Regions from separate parts of the Homo sapiens genome. Here region 2 is reported to be linked to region 1. The links are microRNA targets in miRTarBase. Many come from high-throughput screens and were not tested one by one. Region 1 holds a microRNA gene; the other region holds the end of a gene's coding sequence.
Evidence for each region. Region 1 holds the annotated microRNA hsa-miR-6881-3p (AUCCUCUUUCGUCCUUCCCACU, at 2,921-2,942, opposite strand). A microRNA usually pairs through its seed, bases 2 to 8, with sites in the 3' UTR of a target mRNA and lowers its output. Matches are read on the target gene's strand: a 7mer-m8 pairs with bases 2 to 8, a 7mer-A1 pairs with bases 2 to 7 and ends in A, and an 8mer does both.

Region 2: the mRNA of SYTL4 is a reported target of hsa-miR-6881-3p. Seed matches in the 3' UTR shown: 7mer-A1 at 443-449 and 7mer-A1 at 1,688-1,694.

What each region holds. Positions count from the first base shown.
Region 1 is chr15:74,408,441-74,412,589 of GRCh38, forward strand. It overlaps MIR6881 (microRNA 6881), which reads right to left and starts at 2,992; the gene lies at 2,917-2,992. SEMA7A (semaphorin 7A (JohnMiltonHagen blood group)) reads right to left here. Exons shown (of 14, transcript NM_003612.5): 11 at 3,445-3,572; 12 at 3,116-3,270; 13 at 2,855-2,916; 14 at 849-2,545. The coding sequence ends at 2,184. RefSeq lists enhancers at 800-1,300, 944-1,203, 3,209-3,709, 3,710-4,149.
Region 2 is chrX:100,672,426-100,676,425 of GRCh38, reverse strand. It overlaps SYTL4 (synaptotagmin like 4), which reads left to right. Exons shown (of 20, transcript NM_001370165.1): 20 at 250-1,935. The coding sequence ends at 398. SRPX2 (sushi repeat containing protein X-linked 2) reads right to left here. Exons shown (of 11, transcript NM_014467.3): 11 at 638-4,000. Among named protein-coding and RNA genes, the nearest start is that of SRPX2, 30 kb to the right of the region's middle.

The sequences.
Region 1 (4,149 bases):
AACGCCTAGCAGACCCCAAAGGCCTAGGTCCTTGCCTCCAGGGACAGGGGACAGAGAAGGGAACAAGGGGGAGGGGAGGCCTCTGGGCTTCTATCTGGACTTCTATCTGCAGTGCTCCCTACTGTCCCTGCCCTTCATCCCAGGACCACTGCTCTCATCCTGACCTCCACCCGCCACCAGACAGCCTCCTAACTAACTCCCCTGCATCCTTCCACCCCAGCCTCAGAGGCTCCTTCCTGCATAAACTTCTGTGTTCTAAAACCTATTTACTTGATCTTGGAGGGAGTCCTGAGTTTCTACAACTCAAATCCTACCTCATCACTCATAAACCCTCCCCACAGGTCCCTCCCTACTCTCCAACCCTCACCCAGACCCCTACCCTGCCTGGAGCAAATCCCATTCCCACATCTCTTCAGCCGGCACCAGCCTCCTGCACACACACTCAAGGCCACAGCATCCCACAGGGTCGCATTTGATCAGCTTGCCCTCCAGAACTGCCCCTTGAAGGCAGGGAGTCCTGAGGCTGTTTCTAGCATGACCCAGGCCAGGCCTTCCAGGGGGAAGTGGTGGGAGGTGAAGGCTGGGAATGGGGAAAAGGGGTGCACGTGCTATTGGGGCTCTGGGGTCAAGGCTCGAGCAAGCAGCACGCTGCTGAGGAGTCGTGGGTTCAGGTCCCCATTCCTGCCTCTCACTAGCTACAGCCCTGCTGAGCTGGCTCCTGGGCCCTAACCAGGACATGAAAGAATGCATGTGATGCTCACGCAGCCAGGGGGTGGCGAGTAATAAACAGGAGCCCCCACCAACACCCCCTGACCAGGACAGCTTTGCAGGCAAGGAACAGGCGCAGGTAAATAAATAGCTTGTTTATTAGTAATATGTTACATTATTAAAGTGCATTGAGAAGAGGTGCAGGGGCCAAAGCTGGAAGGCCACTGGCCCCAGCCACTGCCCTGGGTGGCCAGACACAGCCGGAGAAGGGCCCAGCTCCCCCCTGAAATGGATGGACAGGGCTGGGGGCAGGGCCGCCTGCCTGGAGAGCTCGGCCCAGGCCATCCCCACCGGAATTTTCACAGTTTAGCCTAAGTTATAACATGTCCTGAGCGAAGGTGGGAGGCTAGGAGCATGGAAGCACAGCCCCTGGGGAAGGGGGCTGAGAGGAAGGGAGGAGGCCCCCCGCCCCCCAACCCTCAACGCCAAGGGCAGAGTCCTGGAACCTCCCCCTGAGGACCCGGCTCGTCCTTCCAAATGAACACGGTGAAACTAGGGCTCAGTTTTCTCCTTCATTCTCCCGTTTCCCTCACCCCACCCCCTCCCATAACCACCCCCAACACTAGGGGCTCCAACAACGTCCCCCTCAGACCGGGCTCCCAGGGCAGAGCCAGCTCATGCCACTCTCCAAGAACCCATGCCCGTCTCCAGACTCTTATCTCATCCCCGGGAGCCTCAGACTGGGATCACCCCCGCTCCCCAACCCATCCCTTCCCAGCCCCTCCCTTTCCCACCCACCCCCCCGCATGTAGTTTTGGTATTTTCATACAGATGCAGTCGGAAGTAGCTATACATGAAATAAGCCTAACATAAAAATAGAGCTTTTTCCGTCCTTCCGTCCGGAAAGCAAACATCCTTCAATAAACATGCAAGGCGGCTGTCCTGTGGGACCCAGGACCAGAGAGGGAGCTGCAGAGGACAGGGCTGGACAGAGGGTAGCCCTGGGTCTTCAGGAACACCAGCCACCCAGCCATGAGAGAGGGAGGGGAAGGAGGCAATGTGGGTACCAAGAGTCCAGAAGGACTCAGGCCTCAGCCCCAGGGTCGAGATGGAGTCCCAGCTCTCCTATCCAAACCCACTCCCCGACCCATGGGCTCTTGGGCTGGGAGCATCGCTGCATTTAGTCAAGTTTGAGGAGTCTGAAAAATATTTTCCAGAAGATAAAGTCTTGGGTCATCGATGCCCCAGCTTCACAGTCGGTGCCCTCATTCTCAGCCCCTCACCATCCGTGCGCCACCTGGGGCCCAGCAGCCGCCTGCGGCTGGACGTCTCCAGGCCTGGCATCCTCCACTGGGTTATTCTGTCCCCTGGAAGAAGTGGCAGGCAAGGAGCTCCCGGGCCAGCCGGCTCTGAGTGTGAGACGTTCTAGTGCCCTGGGCTGCAGAAGCCTGAGGCATGCCCAGCCTCGGGAGGCCCTAGTGGACCAGCAAGCCAAGAGTGAGTGTGGGCAGCACCCCCAGCCAGAGGGAGGCGGCCAGGGCACAGGCATGACCCAGCAGGTGCTCGGCCATGATGCCGTCCTCGGGCAGCAGCTGCCAGTGCTGAGCCTCGCGGAAGTAGGAGCCCTCCTGGGCCTCGCAGAAGTAGTGGCCGTACTGCTGCGCCGTGAGGTTCTCGATGAACAGGATGCAGTTGGGGCTCTGGTGACCAGGTTCGCAGCTCTGCTCCACGTTCTCCTTGTGGCGCCATGAGTAGGTGGCGTGGCGGGATTCCATGGGGCAGCTCAGGTAGTAGCGAGAGTTTGGGGCCAGGGAAACCTTCTGCAGTGGGGCCTTGTCTGGGGAGGCAGTGGGGAAGCAGCCGTGAGGAGGGACAAAGAGCTCCCAGGGGAGGATGTGTCCTCCCCACGGACTGGGATCCCAGGACAAGGCTTCTGAATGAACGTGGGGAACCCAGCCCTCAGCGTCCTCCTTTTTTCTCCCGTCTCGCTCATCCCACCAAGAGGGCTCCCTCTGCAGGACTGTATCCTGCCCCATGTACCTGGGGCCCACAGGACAAGGCCATGTCTCCCTCAGACCAGGACAATCAGGGCAGGGCAGTACCCCACTCATTGGGCCACAGCCGCCAGCAGGGCCAGATCAGGTACCTGGTTTGGGGTTGGGACACTCCTTGTGTGGCTCGGCTGGATTAATGGATTGCAGCACTGACCTGGAGTGGGAAGGACGAAAGAGGATCAGCAGATACAAGGCTGCAGACCTGACCCTCCTATCCTTACCCCAGTGCAGTTCCAGCAGAGAGGAGGGTCCCACAAGAAAGGCCCAGTACCGCCACCTCCTCCAGCCCGACAACACCTCCCCCTCTCCCATGCCCACCTTCTCCCAGGGACGAGGGATCCCGGCCAACGTACCGTTCGGAGCTGTAGATGGAGATGCAGCGGCCTTGGTCCCAGCCGCAGTAGGGGTCTCGGGACATGAGGCAACCGTGGCAGCCCCCGCCATAGACCTCACACAGGTCCAGGGGCACCTGGCTCACCTCCCACTGGGAGCTCACATACAGCTTCCTCTGGAAGGACAGCAGGATTGGGTCAGGCCCGGGCCCCACCCCACACTCAGTCCTAAATGTCCAGGCCCTAAGGCCTAGAAGCTCTTAAAAGAACACACAAATCACATGCAAAGGAGCCCTGTCCTCAGCTGCAGTCACTGCATAGCCCATGGGACGCAGTGGGGGAAGGCTCACCCGCTCAGCATCCAGCGACATGGTCTGGATGGCAGCCGCGCGGCGGAAGGGCTGGATCTCCATGATGTTGAAGGCGAAGCTGTGCTCCTGCTCCCCCGGTTCCACCACCTTGTGGATAGTGCCCCTGTCTGTGTATGGTGGACAGAGGGTCAGTGGGCGGGAGTCCCACTGAGGGGCCAGGCAGCTTTCCTCTAGGCCGGGGAGGGGTGGGAAGTCACAACTCAGGCAAGGGTCACAGGACTGGTGTGGGCAGGGCGAGGAGAGCGTGACTGGGGAAGAATGTGGGAGCCTAAGGGCAGCCTGGAACCTTCCAAGGCTGATCCAGAGAGGCCATCCCAGGAGGCCCAGGGGTCCCTGGATACGGCCTCCAACATTCCCAAGGCTGCACGGGAAGAACAGAAGCAGGAGCCCCACACCAGCAAGGTCAGTGCGGCTGCTGTCCATGCATCACCTCGTTTAACCCTCCACAGCCCTGCGAGGTGGCTGTCATCTTCCCCACTCCACAGATAAGGAAATCAGGCTCAGAAAGGCTAAGCCACTTGCTCAAGGTCACACAGCTGGTGAGCAGCAGAGACCGAGTTGGAACCCAAATCTGTCAGAGCCCAACCACTCAGCTGCTTCTACAACTCCCCTGCCTCCTGGACTCTTAGGGAATATATTTACTTTAAATACATTTTTTTTTTATTTTGGAGTAATTTTAGATTC
Region 2 (4,000 bases), not on the chromosome of region 1:
CTCTGTAACAGCCTCAGAATAAGAAGTCTCTAGTGACTGTGTGCCATTTGGAGTCTGATTTCATCAACCCAGAGTCTCTTGACAGAGTCTCAGGAATACAGGTGAGGGAGCACTTCCCAGACTGCTGTGGCCATTAGCCCATCTTCGTAGGAAACTGTTATGGGGTGGCTAATCTTGCTGTACAACCCATCTTCCCTGGTGGGCTGAGAGTGGGGCCCCTCTTTAGCCTCTTCTGGTGTTTCTCCTCAGGGATCAGTAATGGGGAAGTGGTGGACTGGATGGACTCGACTGGGGAAGAAGTGAGCCTGTGGCAGAAGATGCGACAGTACCCAGGGTCTTGGGCAGAAGGGACTCTGCAGCTCCGTTCCTCAATGGCCAAGCAGAAGCTGGGTTTATGAGTCCCTGTCCTCTTCTGCAGGTCCAGCCCTGGCGAGGGCAGGTCAGAGGAAGTGAAGAAATCAAGAGCAAAGATTTATAATTTAATGTGTATGTGTGTATGTGTGTATGTGTGTGTGTGTGTGTGTGTGTGTATGTGTACAAACATGTATTTTCTGCAAATCTCATTATGCTGGCTAGAGTGATGCAGACTTGTTCTTCTTTTTAAAGCAGTCTCAAGAATAAGCATTTCTTTAAAATGTTTCTGTGTATAATCTAGTTTATTTTCAGAGTCCATTTTTTCTTATGTCTTTATAAGGTTCACTTAACTTAAAAACAGCTTTTAAAACAACTTTTTATCTTCTGTCTTGCTATCATTGTTCCTACTTCCCTAGGAAGCCCTGGCTACCTTTCGCATTAGGACCAGTCTGGGTTTTAAGGCTCTGGGAAGCAGGGTTGGTTAGTAAAGACAGGAATGTTGGGGAGAGGTGAGTAGTTCCTTCCTCTTTCTCCTCTCCAATTTATGCTTTTAACTTATTTTCTACCTGGATAAACTTCTGGAACTTGGCTTTTAAATTTAACTTTTCTAGTTTTTAAGCAGTTTCCACCTTGCTTTGGTCTAATGCTTTTCTTTGAAATGCTAACAGAATTCCCAAGCTTTTTCCAGTTCTAGATATCTTTACTAGACCTTTGGGGGACTCTTATAATGGAGCTGCTTTTGAAAAGCACTTTAATTAGATAATGTATTTTGACTAAATCACGAGGATGCCCAGTGAGAGCTTCTAGCTGATCTCAGAGGACCAGAGTGACTGAGGGTAAAGTGTCTCACAGCCCATGCTGAATTTTCTGCATTTTAAACTGATACTGCAGTCATTGGAGAGAGAGCTCCTCATTTCTCGAATGAAAGATGAGATATATTCATCCTCATGTACCACATCTGTCTTAGTGTTTGCGTCTGGGGTGTGTTATCAAACAGAGCATGGTCTACATCCCACTGTGTCAACCAGAAGAGCCAAGTGTTATCTCAATTGGCCCAGTGTTTCTCCAGGCTGGGGACTGTTAAGGGCTCTAAGGGAATGTAGACAGAGTCTCCCTGTTATTCTGACTTCCTGCTTGATGAGCTTTCAGTTCCTGTTTTTGCTATTGTTTCCTAAATTTGACCTACATATTACATGGGTGTAGTGTGTTGAGGCTTTTCAAAGAAGGGTCTAGTGAGCTAAGTTTCATCTTCTGGTACTCATTGATCAAACTGACCTTTCTATTCTCATAAGCGTTTCTACCCAAAGTTGTGTGTGGAAGGAGTGTATAGCAGAGAGGAAATCCCTTTCAACAGAGTCAGCTGCTAACTGATTTCCTATAAGCACACTGGATTAAGGGCAGCCACAGTGGTTTCTACTGTATGTATGAACCGAATGGAGGAATGTTTTCAAAGATTGATTTGGTGTGGATTGCAATTGTAATGGAAGGCATAACTTGGGATCCCGGGCTGTAACTTGCTCTTTTGTTTCCCACCCCCCTGACATGTATGTGTGCTTTAATAAAGCTTTCTCACTTGTCAAACGTTTGTGTTTGTTAGTTCTATAAATGCTTTTGTCTCTGATGTCCTCACTGTTGCTTTTCCCCTGGCTTGAAGGATAAGAACCAAAGTGATAAATGCTCTTCCCTAACCATCCTATGCTGATTGAAGAAAATTCACCTTTCCCCGCATTGCTGCCTGATACCTTAAATGCCTGATACTTTCGCTGAGCTTGATCCCTCGTCCTTTGTATTTGGTATCTAAGGAGAACACTGAGAAATCATCTTTAAAGTGGCACCACTTTTCTATCTTGTAACAAAGGAACTCTTCCTTTAGCTTTGCAGACCCTCCTATACTGGAGGAAGGAGAGAGATGTTCATACAGGAGGTGAGGGGAGACATTCCCTGCTATAAGCACTTCTTTCTGGATCCTTCAATTTCTCTGGGAGGCGGGGACTTTTTCTTTTACTCCTCCTACCATTATGTAGTTTTGAGAGAGAAATAACACAGGTGCCAAGTAACCCAGCTCAGAAATAAGGCTCTTGATTTCTAGGTAGAACCCAAGCAATTCTTGACCTCTTGTGCAAAAGGGCATTAATATATATCAAATGCTTTTTATGTGCAAGGCTTCATATACTATTTCTTTAATTTCTCCAACCACTTTATGAAGTAGGAAATCTTCCCTTTTTACAGATGAGGAAACTCAAGCCTACTGTCACGTGACAGAGTTGGGCTTTGAATCAAAGTCTGACTCTACTGCACCATGTGGCCTCCTGTGAGAATGGTATGTGTGTTATGGGTGAAGGGTCAAAGGAAGACGTGACTCATCTCTTCTAAAATATCTTAAATAAGTTCAATTTACAAAAAGTAGGACAATCAGAATGCTTTGGATATTACCTAGCCAACTTAGTGACTGTACTGCTTGTGAGTGAGTGTGTGTGTATGTGAGAGAGAGAGAGACAGAGAAATAGGGGAGAGGAATAGGCAGGATAAGAGAGAATGGGGCAGTGGGGAGAAGTGGGGGAGAGGTGGGCAGAGAGAGAGGTACAATATATACAGGGGTCGGGCTAGCCCCTTTGGGTCTGGCTGTGGGTCATATTCTGCTGCTGTCTCTCCCCTACTTTAGGAGTTGGGATTTCTCAAATCCTCATCTTCAAAGGACTACAAAGGAGGTTACTGTAAAACTTTACCTAAAGAAAGCAAGACTGACTTGACTATTCAAAATGAAATGAAACAAAAGCTCCTCAGTTGCATATAAATGTTCCTTGAGTCAGGTCCAGGTGGAGCTCTGTTCAGGAGGTAGTAGGCCTCCGCTGTTTGGGCCTTTGACCTGCTAGTATGTCCTGGCTTGCCCCATTTGAAGTGTTAGTGATAAAGACAACGAAGGGCATTCATCTCGCCCAAGGTGCAGTCTTTGCCTTTGGAACCACAGAGCTAGTCTGACCAGAAATTTCCCACATGAACTCATTGTATCTGCCTCTGCCCATAACTTGCCTGCTGCCTCTCACAGTTCCCATATTTCCCTGGAGGGAAGAGGGAGAAGGGACCTTTTTGCTCCAACTTTGAACATTTCCTCCATGTTCCATTCTACCCAGCAACTCCCTAATTTTTTATATTGCATTTTAAAAATGAGATTTCCACTAAAATCCCAGTGGAAGGAGATTCTCTCTGACTCACTGCTCCCCCAATTTGTTCTGGGCTCATGATTTATGTCCCATCACTCCGCTTTCAAGACTGAATTTTCTCAGGTTGAGACCCTTTCATTTCCATTTCCCTCTTTCCTCCTGAGCCCACTCTGAGCCTTGTGTCTGGGTAGGATTATAGAACATGGAAAGTTTCTCCTTGCTTACAGCTTTCAGTTGTCTTTAAATGGAAAGTAGGAAAAGAAGTAGCGTCAGGATGGCATAATGTCTAAGAAGAACATTGCCTCTAGAGCCAGGCTGCTGGTGTTGAAATCCTGACTCTGCCACTTACTAGCTGTCTGATCTTAGGCAAATTACCTAATCTCACTCAGCTTCAATTTCCTCATCTGTAAAATGGGGTTAATAACAGTACCTACCTCATAGGGTTCTTGTGAAGGCTTCGGAGTCAATCAGTAGAGTGTTTAGAA